Linked DNA regions of Homo sapiens: region 2 is linked to region 1. Evidence: fine-mapped expression QTL. A gene starts in region 1. The other region holds a variant in brackets. All regions are shown on one strand. Distances are between the middles of the regions.

Region 1 (4,365 bases):
TCTCTAGGAGAGCCGTCCCCCCAGGCATCAGGGTTGTCCTCCAGCGCTGCTGGCGGCTCCGGCGTGGGAGAGATGGAGGTGATGCGGATGCTGGGACACTCGAGAACACGGCCACCCCCAGCACCCCCAGCACCCCCTCCTGGTCCTCCCAGCCTCACCGACCTGGCGGGCTGGCTCTCCCAGGTGCCAGGTGAGGGGGCTGGTCGCGGCGGTGGCGAATGCATGCCAGGCCGAGGGGGTGGAGGTCGGGGAATACCGATAGGTGCAGCGCCATAGGGAGGGGGCTCTCCCAAGGCCAGACGGCAGCATGGCGGGGCATCCTCTGAGTCCAGTTCTGTCAAAATGGGAAGAGGAGCAGAGGGAGAGGGGGAAAGAGAGAAGCAGGTGAGATGGCTATGTTCCTTGAGTGGCCAGGCCGCAAGTCCTTCTATGCTCCCTGCCCCTCAGCAAAGAGACCTTCTGAGCCACAAGACAAAAGCAGAGTTGGACCTGGGAAGATGGAGGAGATTGAAGCAGGCATGCCAGGCCTTTGCCCACTGGCCCCTGGATCCTAGGACCGAGGGTACCCGATCCAGTGGGTCTTAAGGTGAGAGAGGTGGGTCCAGAGGGGCTGGAGCTGGGGCTGGGCCTGGAGGCGTGTTTCTTGAGGCACTGGGCTGGACTGGGGGCGACTCACACATGAACCCAATTAGCAGCGGTTCCCAAACCCCCAAACGGCGCTGGCAGGAGCCCCAGTTGCCATCGCAACCGTGGCCAGAGGGGAGGGGGGCGTCAGGGCTGTGGTGACGAGGGGAGGTGGCTCCTCCCTCTCTCCTCGCCATCTAGGGGCGGAGGTGCAGCCGAGGGGGTGATGCGTGCTGGGCCCAGCCGGGGGAAGGGGGGCAGCGGGCAGCGCGGATTCGTGCGAGCGGCGGCCGCCGCCCCCGGCTCGGTCCCCGCCATCTGCCTCTCATTGCGGCCAGACGGGGGAGGGGGAGGGGCGCCCCAGCGAGGCCTGACAGCGCCCCCAGCCCCGGGCGTCCAGTCGGCCGGGCCAGAGCTCGGTCCGCCAGGGGCCAGCTCCAGCGCCAAACCTCCCCTTCCCCTGGCGGCGCCTGGTGCTGTTGGGGCCGTAGTTCCCGCCCGCCCCCCAGTTCAGTGACAGGCGGCCCAGCCGGGAGGCGGCGCACAGCCAACAGCACCCCCACCCCCACCCCAGTCACGACCTAAAAAGGAGAAAGTGGTGCCCGGGCCCCCAGCCTCACTTCCGCAGGCCAACGAGTCCCCCCGACTCCCTTCGACCTCTGACTCCCTCACCCCCCACCCTAGGCTCGCTGCCTTAAATTCCCCAGACTCAGGATCCCCGGCCCTCCTCTCACTGACCCCAAGACCCCTTCCCAGCCCAGCACTAACCTTCCCCCAATCCCCCCGCGCCCAGCGGGGGGGCCTCCTTTTCCTCCCCGAACACCAGCTTAAATTCCAGCTCCTCATCCTCGCAGCTGGCCGCCCCCATGGATCCGGCAGGAGCCCCCAGGTCCCGGCCTGGGTGGGAGGGGGGAGTTCAGGAGGCTGCTGTATCTTCACCCGGGTGGCTCCCTCCCTCCCTTTCTCTGAGAAGCCCCCTCCTCCGTCGCTGCCGCCTCCCTCCAGAAGCCCCCTCGTTATTATAGAAACTTTTCCAAACTTTTTTCCCCCAAACTTCTTCAAAGCGGTCCCCCCCCCAGCCTGTCCCTGATTGGCTGCCGGGGATGCTCCAGCCCCTCCTCCAGGGATGAGATGGGAAAACCACGCGCCCCTCGTCCTCCCCCACCCTCCCTCCCTCTGTCCTCTCTTCAGTCCCTCCCCCTCAAAAAAAAAAAAACTGAATTGGAAAACGGTCCTTCAAGAGTGATACTAATGTTGCCTATTGGTCCGCCGTTGTGACAATCATTTCCCGCAGAGAGCCCAGCCCCCACCTCCCCTAGTCTCAGTTCAAGGTTCTGGGTCCGAGAGCCTTAAAGGGGCCACATCCTGGGCCCCCAGGGTAGAGAGCCCACGGAAGACCCTTTTTTAAATTCTGAAGACTGTGTAGATAGCACCTAGCAAGGCAGAACCACTTCTCCTCCCCTTTCCCTCCAAGCCTGAGGCCAGGAGGGTCCTGGGGGCAGAGTGGCACCGAGTTGCTCGGAAGAGGAAAAGGCTATTCTTCCGCCTCCCTTGCCTGGGGCTACTCTGCCCGGGCCTTCTGGAAGTCTTTGCGCTGCCGAATCAGCGCCTCCATCAGCCATTCCTCCAGGACCCCCAAAGATGAAGAACGCTTAGCCAGCCTGGATGCCTCTGGGAGCAGTCCGAGCCAAAGAGGCTTTGAGAACTGTCCCTAGGCCCACAGCCCTTGATGGGCGTAGATCCAGGCCAGGCTTTGCCGCTGCCCTTGTCCCAGCCACCCAGAGGGGCCGTGAATTAGCCTCCACGGGAAGTTGGCAGCCTCCTCCCTAGAACTGTAGTCTGGAATGAATCTCTGACCCGATAGCATCCCACTCCGGCTCTTCTAAAAATCCTTGCCAGGTTTACTAGGGGCCTGAAACCTCCGGACCCTGTGGGTTCCCCTCCTCTTCCCCCTCCTTGGCCCCCCCGCCCCCAACAGGCTGGACACCTGTCACCTGGGCTGGAGGAGGAAGGAAGACCTGGACTGGAGTTTCCGGGAAAGTCAGGCTTGGAGAGGCCTGGGTTGTGTGAGAGGGAGTTAGATGGGAGATTCGTGACTCGGTGGGAGATACTGGCGAGGCTGGCGGGTAGGAGAGATGGGAGGGTGGTTATCATTTTCTCCCACACACACACAGTTTCAACCTCTCTTAGAGGCCGCGTCTCCAGTCTCTAAATCCCTCCGGTTCAGGGCCGCACCCCCAACGCCGCCCCATCCCAGCAACTAAACGGTTAAGCGACGGCCCCAGGTCAGACGTTTACAAACACTCAGAAGCCGGGCGGGGACCGCGCCCGTTACTCTAATGAGAAACAGGCTCTACGGGACTGGGGAAAGAAGGGAGGGCTGGCCCGACGGGCCGGAGCTCCGCAGCGGCCGAGGCGGCTTCCCTCCCTCCCCTCGGTCCTCCCTCGGGCCCGCCCAGGGGACCACCCCCCCAGTCCCCGGGGACCCCAGTGACGTGCGGAGCTGCCCCGGCTCCGAGCCCAGGGCCGCAACACAGGAGGGGCGGGGAGAAGAGCCCAGGCCGGCGGGGAGAGAAGAATGTTCCGAGGCCGAGCGGGGAAGCGGCCTGGTTTGATTTTCTTCTTTCTTTTTTTTTTTTTTCTTTTTTTTTTCTTTTTTTTCCTTTGGTTGGTCTCCTCAGGTTACATTTCCCTTCCAGCTTCATCTCGGAAATAAAGGAAGGAGAAACCCACGGGGAGGGAGGACGAGGAACACCTCGACCCATCAACCAGCCTGTACCTAAGAGGGCAAGGGAGGTGGGAAGCGGAGGCGAGAAAAGCAGGGATAGAGACCCCGAGGCCCAGCCCCTGTTCCCCCAGACTCTGCCCCTCCCCGGCCCCACTCCCCGCAGGCACAGCACATGCAGACGCACACATTCTTTTCAAATGTCATATTTCCTTTGATCCTGGGCAGCGTTTCTCCATGTGTCTGGCTCAGCTCCTGCCCAGCCAACCGCCTTCCCCTCTCACCCCTGTTTGTTTTCCTGGAGAACCCTCCTCCTCCTAGCATCTGGAAGGCCCTGAGGGCTGGCGTCGGCCCTCATTCCCCTGATGACTCTGGCCTCTCCTCCCATGACTCAATTTCCCCTTCATGGGTGTTGGGGGGTAGGGAAGGGAGGAGCAGAGGGGAGAGTGGTTGAGATTGTTCAGAGTGCCAAGCTTCTCTGAGGCGGGGGGCGGGGGGGCATCCCCTTGACTCTGAAAACCCTCCAATCTGTCTCGGCTGCGGCAGAGAGATGGAACTTATGACTTCTGAAATGCTCGGCCTGGCGTTGGAGCCTGGGCAACAGCGGGTAGTTGCGGATTTAAGTTGCCCTACACTTCTGCCCCCTGGCGACCAGAAAGACCCAGCCCCCCCGTCCTTGGTTCGCGGTTTCTCTAGCCGCCTGGCCTCGGTCTCAGCTCCGCTGCCTCCTAGCGCACATACCGGAGCACAACCCGGCTTTCTTACCTTGGTTGGTGGCTTCTGCTCTGCACTTTAACAAGCATCATTCAACTTCCTTGGAGGTGGATGTTATTTATTTCTTTTTTTAATTACACAAGATGCAGTCTTCTCTTTTCCCCAGAGGTCTAAATAAAGCTAATTAATATGCATTCTTCTTGTAAACAATTCAAGCTATACAAAAATATGTAGTAAACCTTGATGGTCCACCATTTTGTATGCCTTTATTAACATGTACGCACACACACATGCTCTTTTTA
Region 2 (4,380 bases), 22 kb before region 1:
TTCAGGAGGATCTACTCCTTGGCTGCCCAAGGACACCAGAGGACCCTGGTGGTTCCAACACTTACCTATATTTACTACCATGAGGCACTGCTGCACTTCGGGTGATTCATGAAGAGAAAAACAGGAGCAACAATGTTTCAGGGCTCGAAGGGTGTTGGGCTGGGCTTCCAAGCTGTGCGGAAGGGGCTTTTGGGGGGAGTATCTGCAGGAGGCTGGAGGGCTGAAGGAGGGTCAGTGAGCACGGTGGATGAAGGGCACATGCCTAGGAGCCACTGATGGCAGGGTGAGGGCAAAAGCTGGTCCCATGGAGGCTGAGGGGTCTCAGGCCATTAGTAGTCAAGCAGAGAAGGACAGGGAGTGGGAGCTCTGGGAAGTCTCTAGCAAGGTTATGACTAACCAAAGCCACTCTGAAGCTAACTGCCCCCCACTTCTCTCAGCCAGTCAATCATTAAGTCCTGCGAGTTGACTGTTTCTCCCTTCTTCCTTGTACTAAGAAGTGTCCACCATGTGCCAAACCATTCTAGGTGCTGGCGATACATCAATGAGTAAGTGCCCTGCTGTCACGGAGCCTGCGTCCAAAGTTGAAAAAAGCAATTGCATAATTATGTTTTGTGACTATATTGTTATGAAGTAAAAGCAATGCTGTAAGCCCCGCAGTTTTTTTAAAAATCAACTTATTTACCTAAGTTTCCTAAACTTACCTCAGAAACCATCCTCCTCCTCCACTTTTTGTGTATATAGAATTTATTTCTAAAGTAGTTTTAAGTTTAGAGCCAAGCTGAGTGGAAAGGAGACTTCCTATATGCCTCCAGTGCCCACATGTGCACAGCCTCCCCCCACTATCAACATCCTGCACCAGTGTGATACTTTTGTTAGAATAGAGGAACCAACATTGACCCAACATTAACAACCGAAGTCCATAGCTTACATTACAGCCTCTTTTTTTTAACAGAACAATGTGTTACCACTGAGACTGGCAGGTATAGGCAGGAGGGAGCCTACAAAGTTTCTCAGAGGGAAGTGGCACACTTGGATTAGTATTTTCTGCACAACCAGTTCGCTCATTTCTCCTTGTCTGACCCAAGAATGTGTCCATATCTTCTGAGTTTCATTTGGTTCAGATGCTACAGACACCTCCCTGGCCCAGGCTACTGAAATGACTTTCAAACTGATCTAGCAGCCACCAGACCATTCGCCTCCCTCACCCCTATTTGGCTCTGAATCCAGACTCCTAGTTAATTGAAGAGCATCACTTGCTCTGTGGCATGAGCTTACTCAAACTTTTCTAGTAACTCCCCAGCAGTGGTTTCCCATGTAATTATCCATAGAACCCATTTGGTGATGGCAGTTGAATACAGTAGTTAAAAACAGACTCTGATATCGGTAGCCCAGAGACTACTACATCCTAGCCCTGGAAATCCCAATTTCCTCACCTTTAAAAAGCGATAGGTGGGGGTGGGGGCGGGGGCTCACGCCTGTAATCCCAGCACTTTGGGAGGCCAAGGCGGGCGGATCAGGAGGTCAAGAGACTGAGACCATCCTGGCCAACATGGTGAAACCCTGTCTCTACTAAAAATACCAAAATTAGCTGTGTCTGGTGGCGCATGCCTGTAGTCCCAGCTACTCGGGAGGCTGAGGCAGGAGAATCGCTTGAATCCGGGAGGCGGAGGTTGCAGTGAGCTGAGATCGCACCTCTGCACTCCAGCCTGGGCAACACAGCAAAACTCCATCTAAAAAAATAAATAAATAAAGCAGTAGTGGGGAGGCCGAGGCAGGAGGATATCACTTGAGGCCAGGAATTCAAGACCAGCCTGGACAACAAAGCAAAACTCACCTCTACCAAAAAAAAAAAAATTAGCTGGAGTGGTGAGTGCCTGTAATCCCAGCTACTCTAAAGGCTGAGGCTGGAGGATCATTTGAGCCCAGGAGGTCGAGACTTCGGTGAGCCATGATCATGCCAGTGCACTCCAGCCTGGACAACAGAGCAAGAACCCAACTCTTTAAAAAAGAAGTGGTAGAGACTATGATGGGCTAGAGATAGAACGTCCAGTCTAAATGGCACAGCAGTTACTCAGCTCCAGTGGCTTGTTGCCAAATCTCCCCATTGTTAAGGAAAAAATATTGTAAACTTGACGTT[T/A]ATGTGAAATCTAATTTTGTTTCGCTGTAGCAGCTGTAGTAGACTGCAACCTATGGCCACAAATTCCTCCCATCTCTATCTGCCCACCCTTTACAATGGGACATTGCTGCTCCCCCATCAGAGATGAATTCTATTCCCCCTCCTCCCCGTTCTAGCCTGGCCTTGTGACTTGTGTTGGCCAATAAGATGCAGTGGGAGTAACATTTGTAACACTGAGTCGAGACCTCAAAAAGTCTTGCAACTTTGACTTTGAGCCTCTTGGAATGCTCTGTTCTTGTGTAAAGAGGCCCAGGATAGCCGGAAGGAAGGAAATTGAGATACCGGCAGAAAGAAGTCGCATGGGCAGACAGAAGGAAACTCATCTCAGCCATTCCAGCCGCCCCAGCTGAGGCTTCACACTTGGGAGTGAGGCTGTCTAGGACCAACTAGCTAAACTGCCATCTGAATGCAACCACATGAGTGTGCCCAGGTGAGACCAGGAGGAGAATCACCAGGTTAAGCCACAGAACTGTGAGGAAAAGTAAATTATTGTGGTTTTAAGCCACTAAGTTGGGGTGATTTGTTACACAGCCATAGATAACAAAGAGAAATAATTAAGGCATCTTGCCAATCAAATGCCTCAAGTCACCAGTTAGTGATCTCTTAGGTGTGAACTGCTTGAGGACAGGAATCATATCTTGTTGATCTTGGTATCCTGAGTGCCTACCATTGCCTGATAATTAACACATAGTAAATCCTTTGTGAACAAATAAATGGAGCTGTAAGAGGAGCTCCTATCACAGCTGCAGCAGCCTTGAGGATAGGGCTTTATCGTATGTGCCTTTCTAATCCCAACAGGCACTAACATTTTCTCCTGCAGTTTCTATAATCCTGTGTTAGTCATGGTTCTCCAAAGAAACAGAACCAATAGCAGAAACAGAGAGAGAGACAGAGAGAGAGATTATGGGAATTGGCTCATGTGATTATGGAGGTCAGGAAGCCCCACAATCTGCTGACTGCAAGCTGGAGAACAAGGAAAGCCAGTAGTGTAATTCAGTCCAAGTTTGAAAGTCATTTCAGCAGCCTGGGGAAGGGTGGTGTCTGTAGCATCTGAACCAATGAACCTCAAAAGATACGGACACATTCATGGGTCAGACAAGGAGAAGTGAGTGAACTGATTGTGCAGAAAACACTAATCTATGTGTGCCCTTCCCTCAAGAACCTGGAGCTCTGATGTCCGAGGGTAAAAGAAGATGGACGACTGGGCTCAAATAGAGATAATTTGCCCTTCCTCTACTTTTTTGTTCTACTCAGGCCCTCAATGTATTGAGTGATGTGGACCCACATTGATGAGGGAAGATCTTCATTTAGTCTACCAATTCAAATGCTAATCTCTTCCAGAAACACTCTCACAGATGTACCCAGAAATAATATTTTACCAGCTCTATGGGCATCACTTAGCCCAGCCAAATTGACACATAAAATTAACCATCACAAATCCTTATTAAAAAAAAAAGTTTGCTCAATGATGAAGTAGTGCAAATAGAATAACGAAATGGAGTGGCTAATGAACAACGGAGCCAAAAAGAATTGTGACATTTTGCTACATGTTGGGAGAACAAGAGAAGTGTTTGCCTTGACCTAATGGAACCTCAAAGAAACAATAGGGAGTCTCGATGGAGGCAGAAAATGAAGTGTAGCCAGATCCACCCCAAACTGGGAAACCCCAAACCAGGCAGGACTATGAGCAGTAGCCAATGGGTGCTAAGTTAGGAAGTGTCCGAGTTTTGAGGATGGAGAAAATAATACAAAAACAACACAAGATAAAATTGAGGCTGGGCACAGTGGCTCATGCCTGTAATCCCAGTACTTTAGGAGGCCAAGGCGGGCAGATCACCTGAGGTCGGGAGTTCAAGACCAGCCTGGCCAACATGGCAAAAACCCACCTCTACTAAAAATGCCAAAAAAAATTAGCCAGGCATGGTGGCATACACCTGTAATCCCAGCTACTAGGAAGGCTGAGGAAGGAGAATTGCTTGAACCCGGCAGGCAGAGGTTGCAGTCATCCGAGATCGTGCCATCGCACTCCAGCTTGGGTGACAGAGTGAGACTCTGCCTCAAAAAAAAATAAATAAATAAATAAAATAAAATTGAAATTTACCTACTCTGTCTTGGAAAAACCTTTGATGCTAGGGACTGGGGGTTGGCAAGGTACCAAGGCTGATCGAGCCCTTGGGCGTCTCTCTTCCTCTGCCCTTTGCCAT

What was found. PIP is the estimated chance that this variant, and not a neighbour inherited with it, causes the effect.
Region 2: its variant is the best candidate, but not a certain one, in a credible set for the expression of NFATC4 in whole blood (TOPMed, PIP 0.65).

Annotation. Positions count from the first base shown.
Region 1 is chr14:24,365,468-24,369,832 of GRCh38, reverse strand. NFATC4 (nuclear factor of activated T cells 4) reads right to left here and starts at 1,649. Exons shown (of 10, transcript NM_004554.5): 1 at 1,393-1,649; 2 at 1-334. The coding sequence starts at 1,492. LOC124903291 (a long non-coding RNA gene) reads left to right here and starts at 448. Exons shown (of 2, transcript XR_007064085.1): 1 at 448-586; 2 at 3,306-4,317. RefSeq lists silencers at 811-1,190, 2,909-3,218.
Region 2 is chr14:24,387,371-24,391,750 of GRCh38, reverse strand. It overlaps LOC124903292 (a long non-coding RNA gene), which reads left to right and starts at 2,342. Exons shown (of 3, transcript XR_007064086.1): 1 at 2,342-2,606. The variant T/A (reference allele first, on the strand shown) is at 2,138.